Regions from separate parts of the Homo sapiens genome. Here region 2 is linked to region 1. The links come from fine-mapping of genetic effects on gene expression. A gene starts in region 1. The other region holds a variant in brackets. All regions are shown on one strand. Distances are from middle to middle.

Region 1 (15,515 bases):
GCACTTTGGGAGGCCAAGGTGGGCGGATCATGAGGTCAGGAGTTCGAGACCAGCTTGGCCAACATGGTGAAACCCCGTCTCTACTAAAAATACAAAAATTAGCCAGGTGTGGGGCATGGTGGCTCACGCCTGTAACCCTAGCACTTTGGGAGGCCGAGGCAGACGGATCACGAGGTCATGAGATCGAGACCATCCTGGCTAACATGGTGAAACCCCGTCTGTACTAAAAATACAAAAAATTAGCCGGGTGTGGTGGCGGGCGCCTGTAGTCCCAGCTACTCATGAGGCTGAGGCAGGAGAATGATGTGAAAGTGGGAGGTGGAGCTTGCATCGCGCCACTGCACTCTAGCCTGGGTGACAGAGTGAGACTCCATCTCAGAGAAAAAAAAAAGCCAGGTGTGGTGGCGCTTGCTGGTTGTTCCAGCTACTTGGGAGGCTGAGGCAGAAGAATCGCTTGAACCTGGGAGGCAGAGGCTGCAGTAAGCCGAGATCATGCCACTGCACTCCAGTGTGGGTGACAGAGCGAGACTCCGTTTCAAAAAAGAAAGAAAGAAAGAGAGAGAGAGAGAGAAAGAGAGAAAAAGAAAGAAAGAAAGAAAGAAAGAAAGAAAGAAAGAAAGAAAGAAGAAAGAAAGGAAGGAAAGAAAGAAAGACAAGAAAGAAAGAAAACATGATCAATGTAGAAGTCAGGGAAAAAGAAGGAAATGAAAGAAAAGGAAAAGAAAGAAAAGGAGCAAAATAAAGGCCCTTCCAGTCAATACAGGGTAGTAAAAATAAATGAATAAGTAATAAAGATAAGTGGACTAAACTAGCCAGTCAGAAGACAATGATTCTCAGATTGAAATTTGAAAGTCCATCTATACACTCTTTGCAAGGTATATATCTAAAACAAAAGATGGAGAAAGATTAAAATAAAAAGATGGAAACATTTGCCAGGCTAATACTAATCAAAAGAAAGCTGCCAGCGGGGCACAGTGGCTCAAGCCTGTAATCCTAGCACTTTGGGAGGCTGAGGTGGGCGGATCACCTAAGCTCGGGAGTTTCAGACCAGCCTGACCAACATAGAGAAAACCCATCTCTACTGAAAATACAAAATTAGCAGGGCGTGGTGGTGCATGCCTGTAATCCCAGCTACTCAGGAGGCTGAGGCCAAAGAATTGCTTGAACCCGGGAGGTGGAGGTTGCAGTGAGCCGAGATCGCGCCATTGCACTCCAGCCTGGGCAACAAGAGTGAAACTCCATCTCAGAACAAACAAACAAACAAACAAACAAAAAATGACAAAATATGCCAGGATGATTATTCTAAACTTGGTGTTTTTAATAACACAGGTTCCAAATATAGAATGTAGAGAAATGGACTAATTTACAAACATAGTAGGAGAGTTTACTTATTTTTTATTAAAAACAATTTTTTTGAGATAGTGTCTCACTCTGTTGCCCCCGGTGGAATGCAGTAGTGTGATCATAGCTCATTGCAGCCTCAAATTCCTGGACTCAAGTGATCCTCCTGCCTCAGTCTCCTGAGTGGCTAGGACTGCAGGTGTGCACTGCCATGTCTGGCTACTTTTTTTATTTTTATTTTTGTGGAAATGGGGTCTCACTATGTTGCCCAGGCTGGTCTTAAACTCCTGGCCTCAGGCTATCCTTGCACCTCAACCTCCCAAAGTATGGGATTACAGGCATGAGCCACCATGCCCAACCAAGGAGAGTTTAACATACTTTCTCTGATATTCAAATTAACTTGCCTTTTTTTCCTTTTGTTTGCTTTTGTTTAATATGCCTTTGCCCATACTTCAATTTTTTATTTTTTATTTTTATTTATTTTTTTTATTTTTGAGATGTAGTCTTGCCCTGTCACCCAGGCTGGAGTGCAGTGTTACAATCTCAGCTCACTGCAGCCTCCACCTCCCAGATTCAAGCTATTCTCCTGCCTCAGCCTCCCAAGTAGCTGGGATTACAGGCATGTGCCAAAACACCCAGCTAATTTTTGTACTTTAAAAGAGACGGGGTTTCACCATGTTGGCCAGGCTGATCTTGAACTCCTGACCTCAGGTGATCCTCCAATCTTGGATTCCCAAAGTGCTGGGATTACAGCCACTGCACCTGGCCATACTTCAATATTTTAAGTTTTATTTTTTGTATTACATATACACATAATTTAAAGAATCAATGAATTCTACAAGTTAACTAAAATAGCACTCTGTAGCCCCTTCCTCCAATTTCTCCTTCCCCAGAGGCAACTACTTTCAATTCTTACACTTGATCCCGTTTTATTTTTTTTTGAGACTGAGTTTCACTCTTGTTGCCCAGGCTGGAGTCCAATGGCGAGATCTCGACTCATCACAACCTCCACCTCCTGGGTTCAAGCGATTCTCCTGCCTCGGCCTCCTGAGTAGCTGGGATTACAGGCATGTGCCACCACGCCCGGCTAATTTTGTATTTTTAGTAGAGATGGGATTCTCCATGTTGGTCAGGCTGCTCTCAAACTCCTGGCCTCAGGTGATCCACCCGCCTTGGCCTCCCAAAGCGCTGGGATTACAGATGTGAGCCACCGCACCTGGCACTTGATCCTTTTAATATTTATCTCCACATCTCCAAATAACATGCTTATATTGGGCCAGGTGTGGTGGCTCACACCTGTGATCTCAGCACTTTGGGAGGCCAAGGCAAGCAGATCACTTGAGGTCAGGAGTTCAGGACCAGCCTGGCCAACATGGCGAAACCCTGTTTCTACTAACAGTACAAAAAATTAGCTTGGCATGGCGACAGGCACCTGTAGTCCCAGCTACTCAAGAGGCTGAAGCATAAGAATTGCTTCAACCTGGGAGGTGGAGGTTGCCGTGAGCTGAGATCTCACCACTGTACTCCAACCTTGGCGACAGAACAAGACTCTGTCCTCCCCCACCCCCTGCCCCCACAAAAAATGCTTTTATTGCAATTTCTTTATTTTTCATTTTGGACCTTAATTATTGACTCCCACTCAGGAAGGTGAGGTTTTAGTCCATTTCCTAATTCTTCTCCAGTCTACATCCCCGCCCCTTCAGTTTCCCAGTATAGTTACATGATCATTTTAGTTAGCTTAGTACTCAAGATTTACATTGTATGATATGTGTACTAATTAGAGCTGGGGCATGTGATAAACTATGATTACAATTCCTTTCCTGTACAACTTTTTATTGTATAAGAAGTTGCCTTTTTGTTTGTTTCAAATTCCTTTTTTTTTTTTTTTTGGAGACAGAATCTCACTTTGTCTCCCAGGGTTGGAGTGGTGTGGTGTGATCATAGCTCACTATAGCCTCAACCTCCTGGGCTCAAGCGATCCTCCCACCCCAGCTTCCTGTGTAGCTGGGACCATAGGCATGCATGCACCACCATGCCCAGCTAATTTTTTGATTTTTTTTTTTTTTTTTTTTGAGACAAGCTGTTGCCCAGGCTGGAGTGCAGTGGTGAGATCACAGCTCACTACAGTCTTGACGTCCCAGGCTCAAGTGACCCTCCCAGCTCAGCCTCTTGAGTAGGTGGGACCACAGGCACACACCACCATGCTTAGATGATTTTTTTTTCCATAGATGAGGTCTTGCTATGTTGCCCAGCCTAGTCTCAAGCTCCTGGGCTCAAGCAATCCTCCTGCCTTGGCCTCCCAAAGTGCTGGGATTACAGGCGTGAACCACTGCACCTGGCCAACTGTTTTGATTTCTTGTAGAGACAGGGTCTTGCCATGTTGCCCTGGCTGGCGTCAAACTCCTGGGCTCAAGTGATCCTTGGCCTCCAGGTGTGAGCCACTGCTCCCAGCCTCAAATACTTTTTAATAACTGAACCCCAAACTCTCCTCCAATTGTCTAAACACCCCTCAATTGTTTCATTCACACAAAATATGGTATCAGTTTCCCTTTCCTGAAGAAGTCTCTCCCAAAGCAGACCCACTCCAACCTGGCCAGCACCCCATATGCCTGTAGCACAGCTGTCCTCTTGGGATCCGGCTTTTCAATCACCTCAGGGTTCTCTTACTTCACTTGTATGTTGCAGCTCCTGTCTCCTGTCTCACGTGATTTCTCTTTCTTGGTTTACTCCCTTGTTTTGAAGCAGATTCCACAATAGCTTCTGGAATATAAGGGAGGTTATGGAAGGTACATTTTTGAGGCCTTGAATAACTTTAAATGTCTATATTCTACCCCAGTTCTTGATTGAGGGTTTGGCTGAATTCTAGTTTGGAAACCATTTTTCTTTAGACTTGAAAGCACTTTCCATTTGTTTTCTAGTTTTCGATGTTGCCAAGGAGAAGTTTGAAATTGATCTTTGTTCTTTTGTATGCAAACATTTTCTTTCTCTTTGGAAACGACTGGATGTTCTCATTGTTTCCAGGGAACTGAAATTTCATGATGTGTGTTCATGTAGATCTGTTTCCTTTCATTGTGGCTTCTTCCCAACACAGCAACTCAAGTGCTTCAATTCTAGGAAGTTGCCTTGAATTGGGATGGCCCTCTGTATGTTTTCTGTTCTGTCTTTTGGAACTTCTATTATTTGTAGATTAGAACTGCTCCTCTAAATTTCTTATTTTTCTTTCCTCTTTCCCTCTTTCTCTACACACACATACTTTATTGGAGATTTTCTCAACTTTATCTTCCATCTACGAAGTTTTTCATTTCTGCTATCTTGTCCCTCACCCCAAGCCCCCGAAACCTTCTTTTGGTTCTCTTAACCTCCCTGTTCTATAGCAAACTTTTCTTGTTTCATGGATACAATATCTTCTTCTATCTCTTTGAAGATATTGTAGTAATAATGAGTATTTTAAGGTTTCTCTTTTTCACGTAGTCTCTATTGCCTCCTGGTTGATTTTCTTCCCTCTTTGTATGCTTTAACCTCTGGCTTTCATGTTAGAAGCGTACCTCATTTTAAAGACTGGGGTAGTACAGGCTGATTGGGCTAGTAGAGGCTGATTGGAGGTGCAGAGTCCATGGAAGAGTCCTACTGACTGTGAGTTTCATCGTAAAATGATCTCAATGGGCTGTTTGAGGGAGAACATCCAAGACCAATTCACTTAGAGTTTTCCTCTCAGGTTGGATAAGAATCTCAGGGAAGATTCTTCCATTCTTTCGCTGAAGGGTAAAAACTTGGGAACCTATAGAGTATCAGGAACAAAGTAGGGGAAGAGACTGGGATCTTAGCATTCATTATGTATATTGACTTAATCATTTTGTTCTCAGTTGATATCCTTGTTTAGAGACTATTTGTTTTACTCTTTGCAAAGAGTCAAACCTCCAGTCTTTTTGGGGAATTCTGGAGGCAGTTAGAAAGAAGAGCACCTATAGACTTCGGCAGGCTTCTTCATAAAATAGTTTTAACAAGTTCTCCTTATTTTGGCCGTTCCACTTTTACTCTCTTTTCTAGAAGAACCTTGTGCCACTAATTCCTGAGACTTTTCAGCATTGTACAGTGTGAAACAGATTAGTGTTCAGCTTTTCCCAGAGCAGCTGGGGAATCAGGTTTTCTAAACTAGATACCACTTGCATGTATACTTTCCAGTTCTTGAAATCTCTCTCTCCCATTCTCCTATTCTTGTAGGGTTTTCCTTTTAAAAAAATCCCCTTATTGAGGTGTGAACTGTCAGTCCCCTGCCCCCTGCTCCATCTACTTAACCTGAGGGCTTAGAGGAGGACATAGCACTAACTTACCTAACACATTCTCACCAACCAAGGCTCTCGTCACCTGTGATCAAGGGAACCTGCCCCATAGTAAGCACCTTATGGGACACTCTGCTCTATTCCCCAGGGAAGGAAGACCAAAGTGACATCTGAGCTGGCCCTTAATGAGGATTCTAGAGGCAAACGATGTAGGGCAGAGCATCTCGGTCTGCATCAACAATACATATGTGCAAAGGTACAGGCTACTAAAAGGCCACAGCATGCCCTATATCTGATTATTCCAACCAGTGGGTTAGCAGGATCTGGGATGAAGTTGGAGACCCTGTGCTAAATCACCTGCCCCCAGTCCTAGTCTGCCACCTGTCTCCTCAGTTACGTGGATATCCTTTCTGTTTCCCAGGCAGTTGGCCCAACGAGCCCTGAACCAAGTCCAGCACAAGGCCTTGGTCAGCCATGATGAATTAAGGTTCAACAGCCTAATTTGATACCTGTTCTCATCACATCCTCCCCACCAAGCTGCAGGCAGAATGCATGGCACATGGTTTCCTTGGAACAGTTTTCTGATAGTTCTACCGTCTGAGTCCTGTCATGAAGGCTCTCTAAGGAACAAGACTAGATACATCATATGATCACCTGTGTGTGTGTGTGTGTTACTTAGGACAGGAGCCAACATGGCCATAACTTAAACCAAATAGAAGGTGTATTTAATGTGGGTTCTGATTCACTACATCCGTGAATGTGCCCTCATTTAGAAATATAGTTGTTGCAGGTACATAGTACAGATATAATCAGTGAAGCTCATACTGAAGTAGGGTGGGGCCCTAATCCAATAAGACTGGTGCTCTTAGAAGAAGAGGAAAAGTGGGCTGGGCGTGGTGGCTCACACCTGTAATCCCAAAACTGTAGGAGGTCGAGGCAGGTGGATCACAAGGTCAGGAGTTCGAGACCCGCCTGGCCAATATGGTGAAACCCTGTCTCTACTAAAAATGCAAAAAATTAGCTGGGCGTGGTGGCGCATGATTGTAATCCCAGCTACTTGGGAGGCAGAGGTTGCAGTGAGCCAAGATGGCACCACTGCACTCCAGCCTGGGCAACAGAGCGAGACTCTATCTCAAAAAAAAAAAAAAATTAAAAAATAAAAAGAAGAGGAAAAGAGACAGATACACTCAAGGGGAGCACCACATGATGACGGCAGCAGAGACTGGAGAGGCCAAGCAATGCTGAGGATTGCAGGTGTGTTCGTCACTGAGGATTGCAGGTGTGTTCGTCAGGATTCCCCAGAGAAAGAGAACTAATATTATATATGTATACATACTTACACACACTACATGGAATTGGGTTACTCAGTTACAGAGGTAAGCAAGTTCTAAGATCTTCAGGGTGAGTTGGAAAGCTGGAGGCCCAGGAGAGCCAATGGTTTAGTTCTAGTCTGAGTCTGTATTAGTCCGTTCTCGCCCTGCTATAAAGAAGTTCCTGAGACTGTGTAACTTCCAAAGAAAAGAGATTTAATTGGCTCATGGTTCTGCGGGTTATACAAGCTTCACTTCTGGGGAGGCCTCAGGAAACTTAACAATCATGGTGGAAGGCAAAGGGGAAGCAAGTACTATCTTCACATGGTGGAGCAGGAGAGAGCAAGCGAAGGGAGAAACAACCAGATCTTGTGAGAACTCTACCACAAGACCAGCCAGGTCCATGGTGCTAAACCATTAGAACCACCCTATGATCCAATCACCTCCCAGCAGGCCCCACCTCCAACGCTGGGAATTATAATTCAACACGAGATCTCCGTGGTGACACAGAGCCAAACCATATCAGAGTCCAAGTCCGAAGGCCTGAGAACTGGCCTTAGTAGTGTAGTTCCAGTCTGAAGGTCAGCAGTCTTGAGACCAAGGAAGAGTCTATGTTTCAGTTCAAGTCTAAAGGCAGGAAAGGCTGGGCGGCGGCTCATGCCTGTAATTCCAGCACTTTGGGAGGCCAAGGCGGGTGGATCACCTGAGGTCGGGAGTTCAAGACTAGTCTGACCAACATGGAGAAACCCTGTCTCTACTAAAAATGCAAAATTAGCAGGGCATGGTGGCACATGCCTGTAATCCCAGCTACTCAGGAGGGTGAGGCAGGAGAATTGCTTGAACCTGGGAGGTAGAGGTTTCGGTGAGCCGAGATCGTGTCATTGCACTTCAGCCTGGGCAACAAGAGTGAAGCTCTGTCTCAAAAAAAAAAAAAAAAAAAAAAAGGAAAAAAGCTGATGTCCCAGTCCAAAGCCATTCAGGCAGGGAGAGTCAGCCTCTTTGTTCTATTGAACTGATTGGATGAGGCCCACTCACATTAGGAAGGGAAATCTGCTTTACTCAGTCTACTGATTGAAATGTTCATCTCATCCTAAAGCACTCCATAGAAAACACCCAGAAAAATGTTTGACCAAATATCTGGGCAGCCAGAAAGGCTGACATAAAACCAACCATCATAGCTGACAGCACCAGGAAGCTAAGAGAAAGCTGTGGAACAAATACTACCCTGGAGCCTTCAAGAAGAGCATGGCCATGCCGACACCTTAATTTTAGCCTTCTGCCTCCAGAAGTGTAAGAAAATAAATTTCTCTTGTTTCAAGTCATCCTACTTTGTGGTACTATGTTACAGCAGCTAGGAAAATAATACAGTAGGCTTCTAAAGCATTTTTTTTGAGACAGAGTCTTGCTCTGTTGCCCAGGCTGGAGTGCAGTGGCACAATCTCAGCTCACTGCAACCTCCACCTTCCAGGTTCAAGTGATTCTTGTGCCTCAGCCTCCTGAGTAGCTGCGACTAAAGGTGTGCACCACCATGCCCAGCTAATTTTTTGTATTTTTAGTAAAGACAGGCTTTCTCCATGTTGGCCAGGCTGGTCTCGAACTCCTGACCTCAAGTGATCTGCCCCACGGCCTCCTAAAGTGCTGGGATTACAGGCGTGAACCGCTGCACCCAGCCTAATGTATTTTTTTCTAGTCATTTCCATGGGTAAATCTTTACAGCCCTAGATTTTGTCTAGTGCTACAGTGTGCAATAGAGTAGCCACTAGCTACATGACTATTTAAATTTAAACTAAAATTAAGGCTGGGTGCAATGGCTCACACCTGTAATCCCAGCATTTTAGGAGGCCGAGGTGGGCAGATCACTTGAGGTGAGGAATTCACAACCAGCCTGGCCAACATGGTGCAACCCTGTCTCTAATGAAAATACAAAAATTACCGGGGTGTGGTGGTGCATGCCTGTAATCCCAGCTACTCGGGAGGCTGAGGCAGGAGAATCGCTTGAACCTGGGAGGCAGAGGTTACAGTGAGCCGAGATTGTGCCACTTCACTCCAGCCTGGGTGACAAGAGCGAAACTCCATCAAAAAAAAAAAAAAAAGAAAGAAAGAAAGAAAAATTAAAATTAAGAACATTTTAAAAATTCAGTTCTTCAGTTACACTATTCACATTTCAAGTGCTCTGCGGCCACATGTGGTTACTGGCCACTGTGTTAGACACAACAGATACTAGATCATCTCCATCAATTTGCACATTTCCAATGTACAAAGTTCTGTTGGACAGCATTGGTCTAGTGTATTAGTCGGTTTTCTCCTGCAATAATACTGCATAGCAACTCCAGAATTTCAGTGGTTTATAAGAATAAACATTTTTCTTGTTCAGAGGTCCATGGGGCAGCTCAACTTTAGGTTGCAGGTTGGCTGGACTTGGCTTCGGACTGCAGTTTAGGTTCAGATCTGCTCCATGTATCTCTTATCCTCTTTGGACTCAGGTATGTTCCTCTCATGACTAAAAGCAGGAGTGCAAGAAGGCAATCTAAACCAATCATATTCAGTTAACAGTCCATTGGCTAAAGCAAGTCACATGACCAAGCCTAATATCAGTGTCCTCAAGGAGAGGCTCTACAAAGTTACAAGGCAAATGGTATGGATGTATCATCCTACTATAAAGGAGTGAAGAAAAAAAAAGTAAAGGAATGAAGAACTGGGAATAATAATCCAATCTACCTCATGTGCCAAACGCTTATAAAGACCAGCCTGGGCAACATGGCAAAACTCTGTCTCTATGTGGTGGTGTGCACTTGTAGTCCCAACTACTAGTGAGGTTGAGGCTGGTCTTGAACTTCTGGGCTAAAGCAGTCCTCCCACCTCAGCCTCCCAAAGTGCTGGGATTACAGGCATGAGCCACCACACTGGCCATCCCCGTTGGAGTTGCCTCTCATATATATATAAAATAATAATATATATAATATATATATTTACCTTGGTGCTTTTCTTTTTTTCTTTTTTGTGAGACAAAGTTTCACTCTTGTTGCTCAGGCTGGAGTGCACTGGCGTGATCTCGGCTCACTGCAACCTCCGCCTCCAGGGTTCAAGCGATTCTCTTGCCTCAGCCTCCCAAGTAGCTGGGATTACAGACACCTGCCACCATGCCCAGCTAATTTTTGTATTTTTACTAGAGACGGGGTTTCACCATGTTGGCCAGGCTGGTCTCGAACTCCCGACCTCAGGCGATCCACCAGCCTCGGCCTCCCAAAGTGCTGGGATTACAGGTGTGAGCCACTGCGCCCAGCCAGTGCTTTTTCATATTAATATACATAGACACAATTCTTAAATTAACATTCACTAACTTACATTTACTGGTTTCTGTGTTCTGCTGGTCCCCCTCTTAATTAACTTAACGATGGTTACTTCAGATATCTGAACAATGGACGTGTGTTGAAAGACAACACAACCTGATTTTTGCCACTGGGCTGGCTCCCAATCTGGTTTAGGTGTGTTAACAGGCTGGGCCCGTCGTCTCAAGCCTGTAATCCCAGCACTTTGGGAGGCCGAGGCAGGCGGATCACTTGAGCCAAGGAGTTCGAGACCAGCCTGGCCAACGTGGCGAAATCCCGTCTGTATTAAAAATAAAAAAAATTAGCTGGGTGTTGTGGAGCATGCCTGTAATCCCAGCTACTCGGGAGGCTGAGGCAGGTGAATTGCTTGAACCGGGGATGTGGAGGTTGCAGTGAGCCAAGATCACACCACTGCACTCCAGCCTGGGTGACAGAGCCAGACTCCGTCTTAAAAAAAACAAACAACAACAACAACAAACACTGTTAATAGAGGTTCTTGAGATAAGTTAGGAGTTTCATTTCTCGCTTACAATATCTTTTGTAACTAATTTGATTTTATCTCTCAAACTGAAGTGTTATAGACCTGGTAGAGTAGATTCAAGGCAGCTGCTCTATTCTTTTTCTTCTTTCAAAATGGTTATGGCCAGCATGGGCAACATAGTGAAATCCCTTCTCTACTAAAAATATAAAAATTAGCTGGGCGTGGTGGTGCACGCCTGTAATCTCAGCTACTTAGGAGGCTGAGGCGGGAGAATCACTTGAGTCCAGGAAGTCGAGGCTGCAGTGAGCCGAGATCGCCCCACTGCACAAAAAAAGGTTGTAGTAAAACAACTGCTCTAATTCTTACCCCCTTAGCTAGTGAAAAGATGGAAATGCGACAGGATAGAGCGCGACGAGTGCTTTTAGGGCTAAAACTGAGTGGGTCACACACATGGCCTCCTCTCCCACCCGCTCCTGGCCAGAATTTAGTCACATGAGCGCATCTAGATCGCAGCCAGACGGATGGCCACGTGGGAGTGGGAGGTGATGCCACTAAAAGAGAGGGAATGCTTGGGGAACAATCAGCAGTCTTTTCTCAGGGTTTGAGAAAACACTGTGTCTTAGTGAGAAGACACAGTCTGTGCGAGTTAGTAAAGTGAACAGAACTGAGTAGTCAGCTCCCTAGTCAAGAAATTGAACAGTCGGCAGAGTTTGAGATTTCTTAACGTAAAGGAAGCGTCAAAAGATAAAGGACCCTTCTAGCCAGGACGCAAGACTGAGGGCGAGACAGCCACGCGGAGGCGGGGCCGCCGGCGGTCGAAGGTGCGCGCCCGGCCGACGGTGCGCGCCCGGCCGACGGTGCGCGCCCGGCAATGGGGCGTGGCCAGGCAGAGAGGCGGGGCTCCACCGAGCGCGGCGCTGAAGCTGGCAGCCAGAAAGGGGCGGGGCCTGGCGGCGATAGGCTTTGGGGCGGGGCTTCCAAACCGGGCGTCCCGGCTAGAGTGAAGGGGCGTGGGCACTCATAGGCTATTGGGGGAGAGGTTAAGAAACGTAGAATTTCGCAGCCAGAATGGGTACGTCTCAGCGATCCTGAAAGCAGCCTTGACAGCCAGAGGCGAGTCAAGTGGAAAGGCTGGCCGGGCTTCGAGAAGGGAGGGGGCATCGAGGTACTTAAAGGCCTGAATCGCGCGGCGTGACGTCGGGGGCGCGGTTTCGCGGCGTCTGGGCGGACACTGCGCCGAGGGGCGGGGCTGGACGCGCGCTCCAAGATGGCGGCGAACGTGTTCCCGTTCCGCGACGCCCGTGCCGCACCGGACCCAGTGCTGGAGGCCGGCCCGGTGGCACACGGGCCACTGCCGGTACCGCTGGTGCTGGACAACGGGTCGTTCCAAGTCCGCGCTGGCTGGGCGTGTCCCGGGCAGGACCCAGGTCCCGAGCCGCGCCTGCAGTTCCGCGCGGTGTGCGCCCGCGGTCGTGGCGGGGCACGGGGCGCGTCGGGCCCGCAGGTGGGGAACGCTCTGGGCAGCCTGGAGCCACTGCGCTGGATGCTGCGCTCGCCCTTCGACCGCAACGTGCCGGTCAACCTGGAGCTTCAGGAGTTGCTGCTGGACTACAGCTTCCAGCACCTGGGTGTCTCCTCACAGGTGAAGGGCGGAGTAGGCTGGGCTGGGCTGGGTTTGAGGGGAGGGGTGCGGTCTCGTCTCCGCTCACTCTGCTCTCGGAGAGGTAACAGTCACTTCAGTAGCTCCGATTGTCTTTTAGTCGACCAGATGCTAGGCGCTGTGGGTGTAGCAGCGAATAAAATGCTGCTCCTTGTATCTTGGAGCATACCTTTGGGCATATATGCTTGTTTGTTAAGAAGCCCATTTATTAACAAATACGTATTGAGCACTTACTCTGTGTCAGGCACTTTTTAGGCATTTGGAGTACATGTGTGAACACAAAACTTCCTGTGCTTATGGAGCTGTTAATACTATGGAAAGATATTCTAGTATGAAAAGGCAGACAGTAAACATAGAAATAGTAGATTCTACGCCGTGATAGGAGAGGAGGGAGTTACATTTTTTCAGTAAGATGGTCAGGGTAGGACTCGTGAAGGTGATGTTTGAGCAAGGACTTGAAGGAGGTGATTCAGGTAGCAAGCCATGTGAATATCTGAAGGAAAAACGGTCCAGGCAGAGGGAGCAGCCAGTAAAAAGGCCCCGAGGCAGGAGTGTGCCCTAATCCTAACTGCAAGGCTGCCTGTGTGAGGGGGAGAGTAGTACCTGAAAGAGGATGTCAGAGAGGTAGTGGAGAGGCAGATCACACACCTTATAGGCTTTTACTGAGTGAAATGGGGAGCCATGGCAGGGTGTTGAGCTGAAGAAGGACCTGACTTGTGTTTTAAAAGGATCACTATTACTGCTGTATGGAGAATGAATTGTCTTGGATCATAGGGTGGAAACAGGGACGAGTTAGGAGGCTGTTGGAATAACCCAGGTAAGGGATGATGGTGGCTTAGATGAGGCAGATAGCAGGGAATGTCATTAGAAGCAGTTGGATTCTGGAAATACTTTGAAGATAGAGCCAACACGATTTGCTGACAGTTTGGATGGGACCTTGACTTAATAACTTAAATTGACTCTACTTTCGTATTTTCAAGTAAAGATGAGATGGGAGTTTTATAATCGCCTCTGATCAGGTTTTTGATTAAGAAGCCAAAAGCAAATTCAGTCCTGCAATAAGGATTTTGGGTTCTTTTATGCTTCAAAAAGAGTATTCTGTTACCACTCATTTATTTGCCCTTTTCTTTCAAAGTAGGGCTGTGTTGATCATCCCATAGTTTTGACAGAAGCTGTGTGCAACCCACTGTATTCACGGCAAATGATGTCTGAGCTTCTTTTTGAGTGCTACGGGATTCCCAAGGTTGCCTATGGAATAGACAGCCTCTTCAGCTTCTACCACAATAAGCCAAAGAACTCGATGTGCAGTGGGCTAATCATTTCATCTGGATACCAGTGTACGCATGTTTTACCCATCTTAGAAGGGAGGTGAGTTGCACTTGTGGCATTTGAGTGCGATTTTGAGAAGCATTCAGGAAACATTTATTTACTGCGTGCTTTAAAGGCAGAGTAGAAAGAGCAAGTACTAGCCTGTGAACTGAGCCGTTGGGCTTAGCTTTGAACTACCTCACTGTGTGACTGGGTAAGTCCCTTTGCCCATAGTTGTGTCCTTTGTGACCTTCTGGAGGGAGTTGGGGTGGATGATCTCTTAGTTCCACATCCATAATTCTACAATATTATAATTCTGACATAATGGGGAGATAGCTAACATAGTATCTGCAGGTAGTAGGCATTCAGTAGAAATGTTTTGAATAAATTTAATCGAGACCATCTTTGTGTTCTGGAGTTTTTTTTGTTTTTTTTTTGTTTTTGTTTTTGTTTGTTTGTTTGTTTGTTTTTTGACAGAGTCTTGCTCTGTTGCCCAGGCTGGAGTGCAGTGGGATCTTGGCTCAGGGCAACGTCCGCCTCCCGGGTTCAATTGATTCTCCTGCCTCAGCCTCCCGAGTAGCTGGGACCACAGGCACCTGCCACCATTCCTGGCTAATTTTTTTTATATTTTTAGTGAGACAGGGTTTCACCATGTTGGTCAGGCTAGTCTCAAACTCCTGACCTCAAGTGATCCACCCTCCTTGGCCTCCCAACATGCTGGGATTACAGGGGTGAGCCACCGCGCCCAGCCAATTTCAAGTTATTTAATCACTATTGTTTAGACCTTTCAGGTACAGTGCCTGGCACGTAATGGACCCTTACTAAATATTTTCAAGTTGAATAAAAGGCAAGGGTAGTTTATGTCATATTTAAAAATCTGTTGCCACTTTATCGTTGAGCTTTAACTGTCTGATAAGAGCCTAGGCCACCACTGTGTTCTCCTGAGGTTTCTCACATTGGCACAAAGAGACCCACGCTTTACAGCTGAATGCCTGGGTTTGCAGCTCTGCTACTTAACTTCCTCACTTCATTTCCTGATACGTAAAATTGGGAAAAACTGATTTCCCAGGGTTACCCTGAGAATGAAATGAGATAAGGTAGGTAATGGCACTTTGTAAACTGTAAAGCAGACTGAACATATAAGGCAAATACCATTGAATTTCTCATGAAGTTTCTATGAAAATTTTTGAAGAAAAAAGTAATTCTTAGGTGTTACCAAATGCTCCTGATGTATGAAGTTCTCTATGTAAACAGAATATGCAAAAATAAAAAGTAACATATTTTATATTGAGAGAAAATTACCTGAAGGCTGGGAAATTATCAGAGTGAATCATATCGTGTTCTATGCTGGCATCTGCTGGTGAGGTATGATACAGCAGTGACATTTTAGTTCCCTACAGTAAGTTCCTAGTGCTCTGCCACTTACTTTCTCACATTAGGAAAATAAAATTATTCTGGTTCTTTTACAGTAAGTCAGGATGCGTGTGGTTACTTAACGTGTTTGCTTCAGTAGATGTGGAGTGTTAAGGGAGGGCTTCTTAAACTCTGGCCTTCAGTCACCTAGGGAGCTCATTAAAATGCAGATCCCCAGGCCCCACCCCAGAGCAGCTGTGTCCTGGGAATTGGCATGTTTAAAATTTCCCCCAGCTAATTCTGGGATACCTGGTCCCAGGACTACAGTTTGAGAAATATATGACGAGACTCATTAAGATCTGACTGGAGTGCATACTTGTTAGGTGGCCGTGTGACTGTATGGGTGAGCTAGGAATGCCTGCCTAGATAAGAGGTTATACCAGGGGAACTTCA
Region 2 (15,886 bases), 34 kb after region 1:
CCAATTTTAGATTATGTATTCAGCAGTGGCTCAAACATACCAACCACCTAAGGCCCTCCGTGATCATTAGAAGGAAGAGAACCCCAAGATGTGCAAATTTACAACTTTAAGTTCCTGTTTTTTCTTAAACAGTAAAACATTTTTAAATATTACAAAAATATCAGACAATTTAAACCAAAATGAAAACCAAGAAAACTGTAGTTTCAGCCTCTGCGAGCAATGTTCTTTGTATACTTTCCAGTCGTTTTCATCTCATGTATGGTTTTAACCAAAAAGAGATTGGTGATAGCTTATTTTGTAACCTGTATTTTTTTCACTTTCAAATTATTATGACAATTTTTTTATATCAATAGGTACATTTCCAGAGCATCCTTTTTATGGCTGTATAGTCTATTAACCATATGTCTTGCTGCATTTTTTATTAGTAATGATGACAGCTATGCTTTATTGAATACTCTGTACCAGGCAGCATCTACCATGTGCCTTACACTCATGCACTTAAATCCCCTGAAGCCAGGGGGTGGGGCCTCTGGTTATCCTAGTGACAAGGTCCTCATTCACAGGCCCCTTGCCCACGTGGCAAGCCCAGCAGCTGGACTCCTGAGCCTGCACTTTCCCACCTCCATTTGTGCATGTTGATTCCACTGTTATGGCCTCTGCCCTTCAGTCCCGAAAGTTCTGAAATCACCATTCTAACCTGGAACTCATGGGATTGGTGGAGTGGGGAGGTGAGAGGGAGGTAGGAAGTGAGGCGGGTAACTCCAGAACACAGGAGGCCCGATGGAAGCTGCAGTGTTACCATAATGATCAGATCAGCCTAGCCGAGGGCCTTCTCAGAGCTGCTGAACCCCAGCCCAACTCCAGTGAGAAGCAGGGGAAACTAAGTGCTGGCAGCCTCACAGAGAACGCCCAGGTCACCCCTCTCTGCTGCCATTTCTCCTGAGGCTCTTTTGCTACCCTGGCTAGAGCTGCCTTGCAGCGGCCCCTGTTTCCCTCTACTCAGAGTGGGGAGCGGGGCCAGGAAGGCCTTTTCCCCAGGTCACGGGCCAGCCTCCACTTCACCTCTCCCTGACAGCTTGTGGTTGACAGCATCAGGCAGCAGGAGGCTGAGCCACTGGCCCCTCTCTGACCCCGAGTGTCAGGTCTTATGTTAGTAAAATGTCTGACAGCCGTCTGTTCTGGAGAGTCTGGGCATTCCAGCTCACCTTTGTTTACAGGGTGTGGAGCTAGCCCCGAACTGTCTTGGAGTGCACTGGGCCCACCTATGTGTATATTTCTGGGGATAAAATATCGGGGGCTGTAGCTGAGCCAGGTCAACATTCACTCCTGGAGCCCTGGTGGAGGTGTCCTGGTGAATCTTTGTGTTTCAGGTTCAACTTGCCTCGAACCCTGTGCTGGATGCCTGGTACGGTGCTCGTGACTGGGCCTTGAACCACCTAGATGATAATGAAGTTTGGATCACCAGGAAAGAGTATGAAGAAAAGGGAGGAGAGTACCTCAAGGAGCACTGTGCTTCCAACATCTATGTCCCCATCCGCCTGCCGAAGCAGGCCTCCCGCTCCTCAGATGCCCAGGCATCCAGCAAGGGCTCCGCTGCTGGTGGAGGTGGTGCTGGTGAGCAGGCATAGCAGAGGCCCTCCAGAGAGACTGCCCTGCACGCCATGCCTTGGGCCACGTTGGCAGTGTGACAGGACTGTGATTGTGCTAGATGTACCTGCCCAAGTCTGCTGGTCACATTTGGCAGCAAAATGGATTTCTCCTGGGGAGAACAAAGTTAAGGGACACTGAGACCTGCCCTTCAGAATTCGGTTCACTTGGGGGCTTCTGTGGTAGAGACTAACTGGCCTTCTGATGTCTTTGTTCAACTGTGGCCAGCTGTGGCATCAGCTTCCTGGAGCAGTAAATGAAGACAGAGTGGAGGACACAAATGTACAAAATGCACAAGACTGATTTCTTACCACATTTTAGTCTTTCTTGTTTTAAAAAAAATTCTTTAAAATTTATCTTGTCCGTGTAGATACTTTATTCTTCTGGATGTATTCAGAAATTGCATGAATGCCCAGTGAGGGGAGGTCTTTCATGCATATAAAAAGGTAATGTTTATTGCCGGGCACAGTGGCACGTGCCTGTTAAGGCCCAGCTTTGTGGGAGGCTAAGGCAGGAGGATCGCTGGAGCTTAGGAGTTCGAGGCTATCGTGTGCTGTGATCGCACCTGTGAATAACCACTGCACTCCAGCCTGGGCAACATAGGAAGACATTGTCTCTAAAAAGATACATTTTTCATAAAAGGTAATGTTTATTCAATAAAAGCAGTTGCCTCAGGAACCGGAAATATTTCCCTCCTCCTATTTTTTCCCCTTACAGATAAGGAGAAAAGCCCAGAAAGTTACCAGCATGTGAGGTCACTCTGCAAGCCAGGGACTTGCTTGGTGCCAGAGCCAGTGGCCCAACTTTGTTCATACTTTCTCTGCTGTAAACTTTTCCACCATACAAGGCCTACAAATGTTTTATTTCTGTCCTTCTGAGTTTGTTGGCTTCTTAACTTTTTCAGACTTTTTGGAAGAAAGATAAGACTGGAGGAGGTTTATCCTGTAGCCTGTTCAGTTTTGCCATAACCTCCCATTCCCTGTACCTTCCCAGCTGTGTCTTAAGTGGACAGATAACCCCTCACCTTCACAGAGATTGCTCGGTGAGAATTTTAACTCAAAGACAACCAATTATTGATCCCAGAAGGCCCCTGAGCTAATATTGTCACTGAATTTGTACCTTTAAATCTTATGGAGCCTCTAGCCCACCCCTCTGATGAGGCCACCTTAGAACCTGTTTGCTCATACAGTCTACCAAGGGTCATCACCTGGATCTCCAGCTCTCAAGGGCTTAGAAACTGCAGACCGGAAGGGAAGGGGCAGTGGTGATGGAGAGAGTGGAAGACCACAGCTGACCGTAAACAAAGGAAAAAGGAAAGGTTATCGCAAACCTAAATAGAAGATGCACAGGGGGAAGATACTCCATTGAAAAGAAATGAAATAAGAAAGTAATAGATAAGGAAAAGAGGCAAAGGAAATTAAACTGTAGTTGAAGAAGAAAATTTAACTATATTGAGTTTTGTGGTGGTGATGGTCAAAACAACATGACAAACTTTACCATCTTAACCATTTTTTTTTTTTTCCCGAGACAGAGCCTCACTGTGTCGCCCAGGCTGGAGTGCAGCGGTGCAATCTCAGCTCACTGCAACCTCCGCCTCCCGGGTTCAAGCAATTCTCCTGCCTCAGCCTCCCGAGTAGCTGGGACTACAGGTCTGTGCCACCAAGCCCAGCTAATTTTTTGTATTTTTAGTAGAGATGGGGTTTCCACTGTGTTAGCCAGGATGGTCTTGATCTCCTGACCTCATGATCCACCCGCCTCAGCCTCCCAAAGTGCTGGGATTGCAGGCATGAGCCACTGCGCCGGGCCCATCTTAACCGTTTTTAAGCGTCCAGAACAGGGGTGTTAACTCTGTGCACATTGTTGGTCAAAAGATCTCCAGAACTTTTTCATCTTGTAAAACCACACTCAATACCCATCAACTCCCTTCCCCCTGCCTCTGTCCATCCCCT[G/A]CTCTTTGCAACCACCATTCTACTTTGTAAGAGTTTTTCTTTAGATAACTCACATAAGAGAAGCCATACAGTATTTGTTGTTTTGTAACTGGCCTATTTCACTTAGCATAATGTCCTCAGGCTTCCTCCATGTTGTGGCATGTGTCAGAATTTCCTTCCCTTTTAAGGCTGAATAACATTCCATCATATGGATATACCACATTTTCTTTCTTTACCTTCGATGGACATTTAGGCTGCTTCCATTTCTTGGCTATTGCAGGCAATGCTGCAATTAACATGGGAGTGCAGATATCTCTTCAGGATCCTCATTTCAATCCCTTTGGATATATACCCAGAAGTGGGACTGCTGGATCATATGGTAGTTCTATTTTTAATTTTTTGTGGAACACTCGTACTGTTTTCCATAGCAGCTGCACCATTTTCATTCCCACCATCAGTGCATGAGAGTTCCAGTTCCTCCACATCTTCACCAACTCATTATGCTGTTTTTTTTTTTTTGATAGTTTCCTCATTTACTATCTTTCATCTTTTTGATAATAACCATTCTAACTGGGGTAAGGTGATATTTCATTGTGGTTTTGATTTGCATTTCCGTGATGATTAGTGATGTGGAGCATCTCTCTGTTTGCTTATTGGCCATTTGCATGCCTTCTTTAGAGAAGTCTCTATTCATGTCATTAGCCCCTTTTTTAATTGGGTTATTTCATTTTTTGTTGAGTATAGGAGTTCTTTATATACTCTGGATATTAACCTCTTATTAGATACATGGTTTGCAAATATTTTCTCCCATTCTGTAGGTTACCTTTTCACTCTTGTTTCCTTTAATGGGCAGAAGTTAAGTTTGATATGGTCTCATTTGCCTGCTTTTGCTTTCATTGTCTGTTTTTGGTGTCATATCCAAGAAATCATTGCCAAATTCAGTGTCGTGATGCTTTTTCCCGGAGTTTTCTTCTAGGAGTTTTTCAGGTCTTATATTTAGGTTTTATCAACTACATTACGTTTTATGTTGAAGAAAAAACACTGGAATAGAATTAATGTTTAAACTGATAATAAAATTTTCTTCCCCCACAAAACAAACCACCCTGAATATAAATACTGTAAGGCCACTCTGTGTGCTTGGGAAAGTTGACTCAGAGGTGTCAGATCCTAGTGAAACGATTAGATTTTAAAGATAAAAGAAGTCCTCTCGGGCCAGGAGTGGTGGCTCATGCCTGTGATCCCAGCACTTTGGGAGGCTGAGGCAGGCAGATCACTTGAGGCCAGGAGTTTGAGACCAGCCTGGCCAACATGGCAAAGCCCCATCTCTACTAAAAATACAAAACTTAGCTGGGCTTGGTGGTGCACACTTGTAATCCCAGCTACTTGGGAGGCTGAGCCATGAGAATTGCTTGAACCCAAGAGGCCAGGGTTGCAGTGAGCCAAGATCGCACCACTGCACTCCAGCCTGGGCAACAGAGCAAGACTGTCTCAAAAAAAAAAAAAGTCTTCTCAGCCTCCATGCAGGCTTACACAAGAAAGGGAAATTAGATGGTGTCAGACTTTTTAACAGCACTAATACTAGGAAGTTAAATAAGTTGAATAATTAGAAAACAAAAATGATAAATTTGAAGAAGGATGGCAACATTTTTAAACTACTAGAAAACCTAATTAATGTAGAAAGCACAAATGCATGTAATAAATAAGGTACTAGTCATCAAAAGAAGAAATAGGTTGGGCTCAGTGACACACACCTGTAATCCTAGCGCTTTGGGAGGCCGAGGCAGGAAGATCACTTGAGTCTGGGAGTTTGAGACCAGCCTGGACAACATAGGGAGACTCCACCTGTACAAAAAAATTTAAAAATCAGCTGGGTGTGGTGTTGCATGTCTGTGGTTCCAGCTGCTCAGGAGGCTGAGGTGGGAGGATTGCTGCAGTGAGCCATAAATGTGTCACTGCACTCCAGCCCGGCCAACAAAGTGAGACCCTGTCTCAAATAAATAATCATCTATTTTTCACACACTCTGGAAATACGTGAGAAAATCTAGCTGCAATTGTCAATTTTCTGCATTCAAGCCTTTAATTTTAAAAAAGTGAATTTTCTAGGAAAATAATTCACCAAAACTGACCTTAACAGAGATATATAAAGTTCAAACAGACTTTTTTTTTTTTCCATAGATGAACTCAAGAAAATTGCCACAGAGCTGCCCCCCTCCCTCCAAAAAACTCCAGGTCCAGTTGAGTTTAATAGCTATTAGCCTTAAACACTAGATACTTCCAGTGTTCCTTAAACTTTACCAGAGCATAGGAAAAAAAAATTAAATGATTTTTATGTAGTGAGTATAATGTTGCTATCAAAATCCAGTAGGTTGTACACACACACACAAAACAATCTTGCTTAAAAATATCAATGGAGAAAACAAATTATTTGCAATTGAAATCCACCAACACGTTAAAAAATAACATCATGGCCGGGTGCAGTGGCTCATGCCTGTAATCCCAGCACTTTGGCAGGCCCAGGCTGGCAAATCACGAGGTCCAGAGATCAAGACCATCCTGGCCAACATGGTGAAACCCCGTCTCTACTAAAAATACAAAAATTAGCTGGGCGTGATGGCACATGCCTGTAGTCCCAGCTGCTTGGGAGGCTGAGGCAGGAGAATTGCTTGAACCCGGAAGGCGGAGGTTGCAGTGAGCTGAGATCGCACCACTGCACTGCAGCCTGGCGACAGAGCAAGACGCTGTCTCAAAACAAAACGAAACAAACAAAAACATCGCGACCAAATGGGTTTTATTCCAGGAAATGCAAATGTATGTGTCAAACACCAAAATCTCAGTGGCTTAACACCAAGTATATTTCTTATGCTGCATGTTCAGTAAATACCAGTATGGTGGAGTGTGGGGAGGGGGTGATGCATTGCTGTGGATAATTAATTACTCCACACCATCTTATGATCCTTCCTTCTCAACGCAAAGCAAGGAAAGAGAACATCAAGCGTTAAGTCCTGGCTCCCAAATGTGCCACCCAGAACATATCCACCACGAGTACTCAAATTTCACTGGCCAAAGCAGGTCATTTAGCCATGTTTAATTTCTTAGTATTTCATTTTTAGTTATTTAGTATTTCTATTTATTTATGACTGTATGCCCTTGTGTGTGTGTGTGTGTGTGTGTGTGTGTGTGTGTATGGTGGTGGTTCTAGGAATTACAATATATATCCTTAAAATATTACACTCTGGGGGGTCGCAGGCAAAAAAAAATTACAGTCTGCCATTAATTAATTCTACAATACTTCACATACAATGTCAGAATGCTACCATAACAGTATAACTCTGTTTCCCCTCGGTTGGTCTTTTGTGGTATTGTCATGTATTTTATCTACTATTATGTTGTGAATCCCATAACAGTATGAATTTTTTTTATGTAGTAGTCTTCTAGAGAAATGTAAAAAGATGGTCTTGGTTGGGTGTGGTGGCTCACCCCTGTGATCCCAGCACTTTGGGAGGCCAAGATGAGAGGACTGCTTGAGCTCAGGAGTTCAAGACCAACCTGGGTAACATAGCAAGACCCTGTCTCTATTAAAAAACAAACAAATGCCTGGCGTGGTGGCTCATGCCTGTAATCCCAGCACTTTGGGAGGCTGAGGCGGGCGGATCATGAGGTCAAGAAATCAAGACCATCCTGGCCAACATGGTGAAACCCCATCTCTACTAAAAATACAAAAATTAGCTGAGTGTGGTGGCACATGCCTATAGTCCCAGCTACTGAGGAGGCTGAGACAGGAGAATCTCTTGAACCCAGGAGGTGGAGGTTGCAGTGAGCCGAGATCGTGTCACTGCACTCCAGCCTGGTGACGGAGCGAGACTCCATCTAAAAAAAAAAAAAAAAAAAAAAAAAAAAAAACAAACTCTTAGCTGATGGTGGTGGTGCACGCCTGTAGTCCCAGCTACTCGGGAGGCTGAAGCGGGAGAATTGCTTGAACCTGGGAGGTCAAGGCTGCAGTGAGCCATGATTGCGCCACTGCACTCCAGCCTGGGTGACAGAGGAGCAAGACCCTGTCTCAAAAAAAAAAAAAGAAAAAAAAAGATGGTCTTCAGCACTAACCTGCAAGTTGGCCCTTTCCAGTACAGGAGAGTAGGGATGGAGGGAGGTCATTTCCTTGACGCTAGTCTCTCAGCTTGGACATTCCTCTGAGGAATGCTTAACAGGATGAGGGAGGGGGCTTCGCCTCTGGCCAGTGCCCAGCTTAAGTAGCCTTTTGGAAAAGTTCCAGAGGACATGGAGTGGGGTGGGGTTCTGCAGGCAGCCATTCCTCAGTCTACACAACCCTCTGGTTCCACAAGAATTGGGAGATGAATTTGGCTGCCTGCACTTCCCAGCCTGCATCAGTTTTTTAAATTTTTATTTATTTATTTTTTTTTTAGATGGAGTCTCGCTCTGTCACCTAGGCTGGAGTGCAGTGGTGTGATCTTGGCTCACTGCAACCTCTACCTCCTGGGTTCAAGCGATTCTCCTGCCTCAGCCTCCCGAGTAGCTTGGACTACAGGCGTGTGCCACCATGCCTGGCTAGTTTTTTGTATTTTTAGTAGAGACGGAGTTTCACCATGTTAGCCAGGATGGTCTTGATCTCCTGACCTCGTGATCCACCTGCCTCAGCCTCCCAAAGTGCTGGGATTACAGGCGTGAGCCACCGCGCCCGGCCTGCATCAGGTTTTGATGAGCACGTGGCCAGGAGTAGGGTAGTGCTGTCCAGCCGATCCCCTGCCCGGGGAACCTCCTGTGGATTGCCTGGCATTGAGGTTGATCGTATGCCCTAGCCAGGACAAATTTCTGGAAACCCTTTTGCTTTAGTCATGGGGGCAGGGCTTTACCCACTGATACTCCCCAGCTTGCAATGCTTCAGCAATAATCTGGACTGGGTTTCATCACAAGTGGTGTTAAGTCTCCAAGGCTTTACATTTGGACTATTAATAACCGTGCCCTGGTTATCAATAGAAAGGGGCACTCCAAGAGTGTGAACTAGGTCCTCGTGTTGATGGTGATTCTGCCAGCCTTTGCTACAGGCATTCCTTTAGCCATTCAGAGAAGATACACTCAAATGCTACAGTATACTCTAAGATATGAATAAAATGGACCAGGATATTTTCAGAAGGCCCCAAAGGAGAGGATGACTTGCCCTCATTTTCTTGACAACTTTTCTCACATCTGGGCCTGTGCAATAAGAAAGCTCTTACAAAACTGCTGAGACACACTGGGAAATCCAGGGTATACCGATCACATCCAGCCAGTTCTGGCACTCCTTGGTGTGTGCCAAGCTAGGGGCTATGGGAACAGGGTGAGTGGGTAGATCCTTTGATGCCACTCCAAAGCTTTCTGGGGAGCACCAAAATGACAGGAATGCAAAATCTCTGAAGGCTCTTTTCTGAATTCCAAGCTGACTCTGCAGAAGGGCCAAACTTAAAGAAGCGGCCCAGGCTGAGCGCAGTGGCTCACACCTGTAATCCTAGCACTTTGGGAGGCTGAGGTGGGTGGATCGTCTGAGGTCAGGAGTTCGAGACCAGCCTGATCAACATGGTGAAATCCCATCTCTACTAAAAAATACAAAAATTAGCCGGGCATGGTGGTGGGTGCCTGTAATTCCAGCTACTTTGGAGGCTGAGGCAGGAGAATCGCTTGAACCTGCGGGGGAGGAGGTTGCAGCGAGCTGAGATCACGTTACTTCACTCCAGCCCGTTTATAAGAGCGAAACTCCGTCTTGGGAGGCGGGGGGGGGGGGCATGTGGGAAGAAGCCACCCGAGGAGCCTGGTAGGGTGATGAAAGTGAGAGCAGAGGTGTAGCTCAGGGCCGTGCAGCACCTCGGCTTTGGCTCTTTGCAGGCTGTAGAAGCAGAATCGTAAGACTTCTCCTGGCTTGTTTCTTTCCATTTCTCGATTTGACTCCTCAGCCTGCTCTTCTGGCTCCCTGCTGTCTAATGGAATTCCAGAGCTTGACCTTGAGAATGCAGATTCTCCCGATTGACAACTTCTAGAGAAGGGAATCTCAGAAAGACAAAGGAGATGTTCCTTCTTCCGCTGCAAGAGTGGAAAAGCAGACACTCTCCTGAGAGCCTCATAAAGCTGGTGAAAGCCTGTTCTGATAAAGCACCCAGGAGATCATTCCTTCCGCCCCCTGCTCCCAGGACAGGCACTTAGGTGAGAATGTGTGACTCATCCAGTTCTGATACCTGCTGCAAATGGTATATGAAACAAAGGAATCTTTTAAGCCACCTGGGCTTCAAAGAAATGTAACTGTGTACTTTTTTTTTTTTAATCTGCTTTTAAATTGGTAACCTTGCTTAATTGCATGTTGCCCTGGTAATAACCTTGCAATTGACATCTCTTTTTAAAAAATGAAGGTCTACAATGTCTGTATTGGCCAGAAGAGCTTTGCAAGTTTCTTTGTTCATCTTTCTCCTATGACTATGATTTTCTTCGAACAAAGAGTTTGAGAGGCCTTGCTTCGTTTTAAATTAACAATACATACTTTGCATATTTGACTTGAGAATTGTGTGTATGTTATACACTACTACAAAACAAACCAATTTCAATAAAAATAAAAGCACAATCCTTAAAATCAAAGCAAAGTGAAACAATTGAACCTCATTATATATCAAGTTGGTGGTTTACTCACACGGAGAGGACTTATTTTAAGTGACTTTAATTAGGTGACTTTATTTTAAGTGACTTTCCATGGTAGTTGGAAAAAAAGAAACCACAGTAGTTGAATGTATATCTTTAGTGGGATATATTCTAAGAACAAAAAATAACCGCACAGTAAGAAATCTTACTGTTTTCAGTAATTATGTTGTTAGTAATGGCATTGGTATGATTATTCTGAAGATATAAATATGTGTGTATATATTCAAATAATGTTAACATTGTTAGCAACCAAGATTTTCAGTATAACAAGATATAAAAATATAAAATAAAAACTGAAAAATCATATAATCCTAAATTTGAATTGCACGTATCCATATGAACACATGATGTATTTTCTCTTTACAAATATTAATTAATTAGCCTAGAACAACAAACAGCCAATCAAACAGGCAAATCACCTGAGGTCAGGAGTTCAAAACCAGTCTGACCAACACAGTGAAACCCTGTCTCTACTAAAAATACAAAAAATTAGCCAGGCGTGGTAGCAGGCGCCTGTAATCCCAGCTGCTAGGGAGACTGAGGCAGGAGAATCGCTTGAACCTGGGAGGCAGAGGTTGCGGTGAGCCGAGATTACACCACTACACTCCAGTCTAGGCGACAGAGTGAGACTCCATCTCAAAAAAAACAAACAACAACAAAACAACAATGACAACAACAATAAAACCCTCAAAATTCAGGAGTCCACTTGAAGGGGCTCCCGCTGGCCCAGGAATGGGACAATTTGAGCATCTGAAAAAATAACAGTGAAAGGTTGAAACATACTAAAATCTATGAATTCATCATGGTCACCTTTGGAGAATGCTAGGGAACCAGTTCATCATTCTGAAACTAGGAAATAAAGGGCAAAAGCAGGCATAGATCTCACCTTTCTTGTAGAAACTGTACCTCATGGCAACCGAACAGATAATAAGGGAATGTTTTTCTTTGTAGAGGATTTCTAGCTAAACAAATGAAAACAGAATGATGAAATACCTACCACCATTTTCTCTTTCTTTCTTTTTTTTTTTTTTGAGACGCAGTCTGGCTCTGTCATCCAGGGTGGAGTGCAATGGTGTGATCTTGGCTCACTGCAGCCTCTGCCTCCCGAATACCACCATTTTCTAGCTCCTAATGAAATAAAGGCAAGAGACAAATTCTTCATCAATGACAGCTAAAAACCACTCGGTGAAGAGTTGATGGAAGGCTGGGCACAGTGGCTCATGCCTATAATCCCAGCACTTTAGGAGGCCGAGGCAGGTGGATCACCTGAGGTCAGGAGTTCGTGAACAGCCTGCCAACATGGTGAAACCCCGTCTATGAAAATACAAAAATTAGCTAGGCGTGGTGGCACACCCCAGTAGTCCCAGCTACTTGGGAGGCTGAGGCAGGAGAATCACTTGGAAGTTGCAGTGAGCCGAGATCGTACCACTGCACTCCAGCCTGGGTGACAGACAGAGTTGGTCTCAAACAAAAAAAAAAAAAAAAGAAAAGAAAGAAAAAGAGTTGATGGACATCTTTATAATGGATGGATATTATGTGCCTCCTGGTGTGATACAATACGACATACTGCACATCATCCATGAAGAATTCTTAGGAAAAAATTTGAACCTGAATGTGATCAAGCCACTAAATTTAACTGCCATTTTACTAGAAATTCTGGGGACAGAGAAACATATTATGAATTAGCATCCCAACAGGAAGCAGATGGGATACTCAGGTTAGGAGAATGAGATGTGAAGGCAGGGTGTAAAGATGGTGCAGGGTCCTGGGAAGGTCCTCAGAGAAGCCTTTACAATAGGAAAGGAGAGGCTACCCAAATTTGGAAGGAGAAAGAGTTGTATAGAACAGTTGTGTTGAGAGGGACACAGCTTCAGTCAAGAAGCACAGCCAAACCAAGGTGGCCTTGCCAGGAGGGAGACAGGGAAATACACGCCCCAACTGCATTGTCCTCCCTCCCTCCCACACCTGCCAGGGCTCCCTATTGGCCAAACCCATCTGAAGCCAGAGGGCAAGAGAGCGCAGCTGATGTAATTCACACATGGCAGTCTCCAAGGGCAAATTCAAAGGTCAGAGTGGAGAAGGGTAGTTGCTAAATGGGACAAACGAGTACAGTCTGTCACAAACATGATAAATAACACCACAGGGCTGCAAACAGCAAAATCCAGAATGCAGAAAACTCTCCAGGACAAATAGCATTTTCCCCCCACCAAACAAATTGCAAAGGGGGAAAAGAGAGGGAGAAGATATAAATTAAAAGAAAATTTAGGCCAGTGCGGTGGTTCACGCCTGTAATCCCAACACTTTGGGAGGCGAAGGTGGGCGGATCGCTTGAGGGCAGAAGTTTGAGACCAACCTGGACAACGTGGTGAAACCCTGTCTCTACCAAAACATACAAAAAAAAAAAAAAAACAAAAAACAAAACTAGCCAATCGTGATGATGCACACCTGTAGTCCCAGCTACTCAGGAGGATCAGATGGGTGGGTCGCTTGAACCTGGAAGGCAGAGGTTGCAGTGAGCCGAGATCATGCCACTGCACTCCAGCATGGGTGACAGATCAAGACTTGGCCTTAAAAAAAGAGAGAGAGAGAGAGAGAAAAGAAAAAAGAAAATTTAAAAGCATAACAAAAATATAAAGTGTGGACCTTGTTTGGTTCCTAATTCTAATAAGCCATGTTTGATAAAAGAAACTTCTGAGCAAATCTGGCAAATGTGGATATTTAATAATATGAAAGAATTATTGATAGTTTTTAAAGATGTGGTTGTGATTTTTGTAGTTTTATGGAGGGAGAGAGAGTGAGTGAGCTTGTCTTATAGAGATGCATATTGAAATGTTGGCAGCTGGAGTCATATTTGGGATTTGCTCCAAAATAGGCAAAGGCTTATAGATAAAACAAGAGTGAGTGACCGTGTGTTGATTGTCACTGAATATGGGGGAATAGGTACACAGGGGCTGGTTATACTTCTCTGTTTTTGTGTGTGTTTAAAATTTTCCATTAAAAAAATTAAAAAGTTGAGCCAGGCACAGTGACTCATGCCTATAATCCCAGCACTTTGGGAGGCTGAGGTGGGAGGATCCCTTGAGCCCAGGAGTTTGAGACTAGCCTGGGCAATGTAGCAAGGCCCCTGTCTCTACAAAAGCAAAAAAAATTAGTGAGGCATGGTGACCCAGCTACTCCGGAAGCTGAGGTGGGAAGATTACTTGAGCCTGGGAGATCCAGGCTGCAGTGAGCAGTGATTGTGCCACTGCCCTTTGGCCTGGGTTGCAGTGAGACTGTCTCAAAAAATAAGATAAAAAGTAATGACACTCTTGTCTAGCCTTGTTTTGTTTATCATATAGCAATATTTCTTGGATATCACTCAGTAGCAGTGCGTAGTGAGCTGCTGCTTAAAAAACAAACAAACAAACAAAAACCCAGGAGTCTCACTATTGTTTCACAGGCTGGTCTCAAACTCCTGGGCTCAAGCGATCCTCTCACCTCGGCCTCCTGAGTAGCTGGGATTACAGGTGGGGATGCTTCTTCCTTGTCTCTTTATAATGTATGTCTGTATAAATTATATGTGTCACAAACACGATAACGCCATGGACATGCAATCAGCATATCTATGACATATACATATAAATTTTACTCAAACGGTAGCATACTATGGCTTAACAATATGTCTTGAAGATCACTCCATGTCAATACAAACCAAGCTTCTGCTTTTTTCCCTTATCTTAATATTATTTTTCATGGATAATGCATTGAAAATCTACTCTCCAACCTTGGCTCTTCTTTTTTTTTTTTTGGAGATGGAGTCTCACTCTGTCACCTAAGCTGGAGTGCAGTGGCACAATCTTGGCTCCCTGCAACCTTCACCTCCCAGGTTCAAGCGATTCTCCTGTCTCAGCCTCCTGAGTAGCTGGGATTACAGGTGCCCACTACCATGCCCAGCTAATTTTTAAATTTTTTTTTAGTAGAGATGGAGTTTCACCATGTTGGCCAGGCTGGTCTCGATCTCTTGACCTCAAGTGATCCACCTGCCTCAGCCTCCCAAAGGGCTGGGTTTTCAGATGTGAGCCACTGCGCCCGGCCTCCTTGGCTCTTTTCTCTTAAGAAACGGATGAGAATTGCAAACATTTTCCTATGATGGTATTTGTCTTTTAACTTTGTTGGGGTGTTTTTCCACTCAGATTCTTTTCGTGGACTTAAATTGCTTTTGGGTTTTATGTCATACTTTAAAAGGCCTCACTCACTTTGAGATAACAAAAAAAAAATCCTACGTTTTCTTTTCACATATGTGGTTTTTTAAAAATCCTTTTTGGGCTGGGCACGGTGGCTCACGCCTGTAATCCCAGCACTTTGGGAGGCCGAGGCGGGCAGATCCCTTGAGGTGAGGAGTTCGAGACCAGCCTGGTCAATATAGTGAAACCTCGTCTCTATTAAAAATACAAAAATTAGCCAGGTGTGCTGGCGCGGGCCTGTAGTCCCAGATATTTGGGAGGCTGAGGCAGAAGAATCGCTTGAACCCGGGAGGTGGAGGTTGCAGTGAGCCAAGATCATGCCACTGTACTCTGGCCTGGGTGACAGAGCAAGATTCCATCTCAAAAAAAAAAAATCCTTTTTGGTAATACATACACACATATAATGATATAAAACATAAATGTACACCCAAACAACTGTGGCTAAATGAACACCTGCATGACCACCACCCTCTGTGGTCAAGAAATAGAATACTGCTGCCACCCTAGAAGCCTCCAGTATGATCCATCTTCCCTCATTAAAATCCACTCCTTCCTCCTTAGAAGAGACCATTGTACTGATGTCAGTGGTATTCTATTTCATGTTCCTTATCATGTTGCTACCTCATTATGCATCCCTAAACATTATTCTGTTGTTGTTGTTTTGAGACAGAGTCTTACTCTGTCAGCCAGGCTGGAGTGCAGTGGTACAATCATGAGTTTGAGGCTCACTACAGCCTCAAACTCCTGGACTCAAGTGATCCTCCTACCTTAGCCTTCTGAGTGGCCAGGGCTGCAGGCATGTGCCATCATGCCCAGCTAATTATTTTATTTTTTGTAGAGACAGGGGCCTCCTTTTATTACCTAGGTTGGTCTCAAATTCTTGGGCTCAAGCAACCCTCCTGTCTTGGCCTCCCAAAGCTCTGGGATTATAGGCATGAGCCACTGAACCTAGCCCCTAAACATTGTTTTTTGTTTGTTTGTTTGTTTGTTTTTGAGACGGAGTCTCACTCTGTTGCTCAGACTGGAGTGCAGTGATGCAATCTCTGCAACGTCTGCCTCTCGGGTTCAAGTGATTCTCCTGTCTCAGTCTCCCAAGTAGCTGGGATTACATGGGCATGCCACCATGCGCAGCTAATTTTTGTGTTTTTGTGTGTGTGTGTGTGCAGATAGGGTTTCACCATGTTGGCCAGGCTGGTCTCGAACTCCTGACCTAAGGTGATCCACCCACCTCGGCCTCCCAAAGTGCTGGGATTAGAGGTGTGAGCCACTGCACCCGGCCAACATTGTTTTTAAGATCCATTCATGTTGTGTGTAGCTGTGGTTCATTTTCATTGCTTTGTAGTATTTTATTGTATGCATGTACCATAATTTATTTATCCAGTTGGAATTTATCCTGGCAAAGATTTGCAGTAA

What was found. PIP is the estimated chance that this variant, and not a neighbour inherited with it, causes the effect. A credible set is the group of variants that fine-mapping cannot tell apart.
Region 2: its variant is the best candidate, but not a certain one, in a credible set for the expression of ACTR5 in whole blood (TOPMed, PIP 0.86).

Annotation. Positions count from the first base shown.
Region 1 is chr20:38,736,471-38,751,985 of GRCh38, forward strand. It overlaps ACTR5 (actin related protein 5), which reads left to right and starts at 11,990. Exons shown (of 9, transcript NM_024855.4): 1 at 11,990-12,383; 2 at 13,540-13,769. The coding sequence starts at 12,009. RefSeq lists silencers at 11,466-11,735, 12,036-12,225 and an enhancer at 11,586-12,087.
Region 2 is chr20:38,770,189-38,786,074 of GRCh38, forward strand. It overlaps ACTR5 (actin related protein 5), which reads left to right. Exons shown (of 9, transcript NM_024855.4): 9 at 1,371-2,332. The coding sequence ends at 1,628. It overlaps LOC124904902 (a long non-coding RNA gene), which reads left to right and starts at 9,310. Exons shown (of 2, transcript XR_007067584.1): 1 at 9,310-9,764. RefSeq lists enhancers at 9,310-9,974, 10,307-10,807, 10,808-11,308, 11,802-12,413, 12,414-13,023. The variant G/A (reference allele first, on the strand shown) is at 3,597.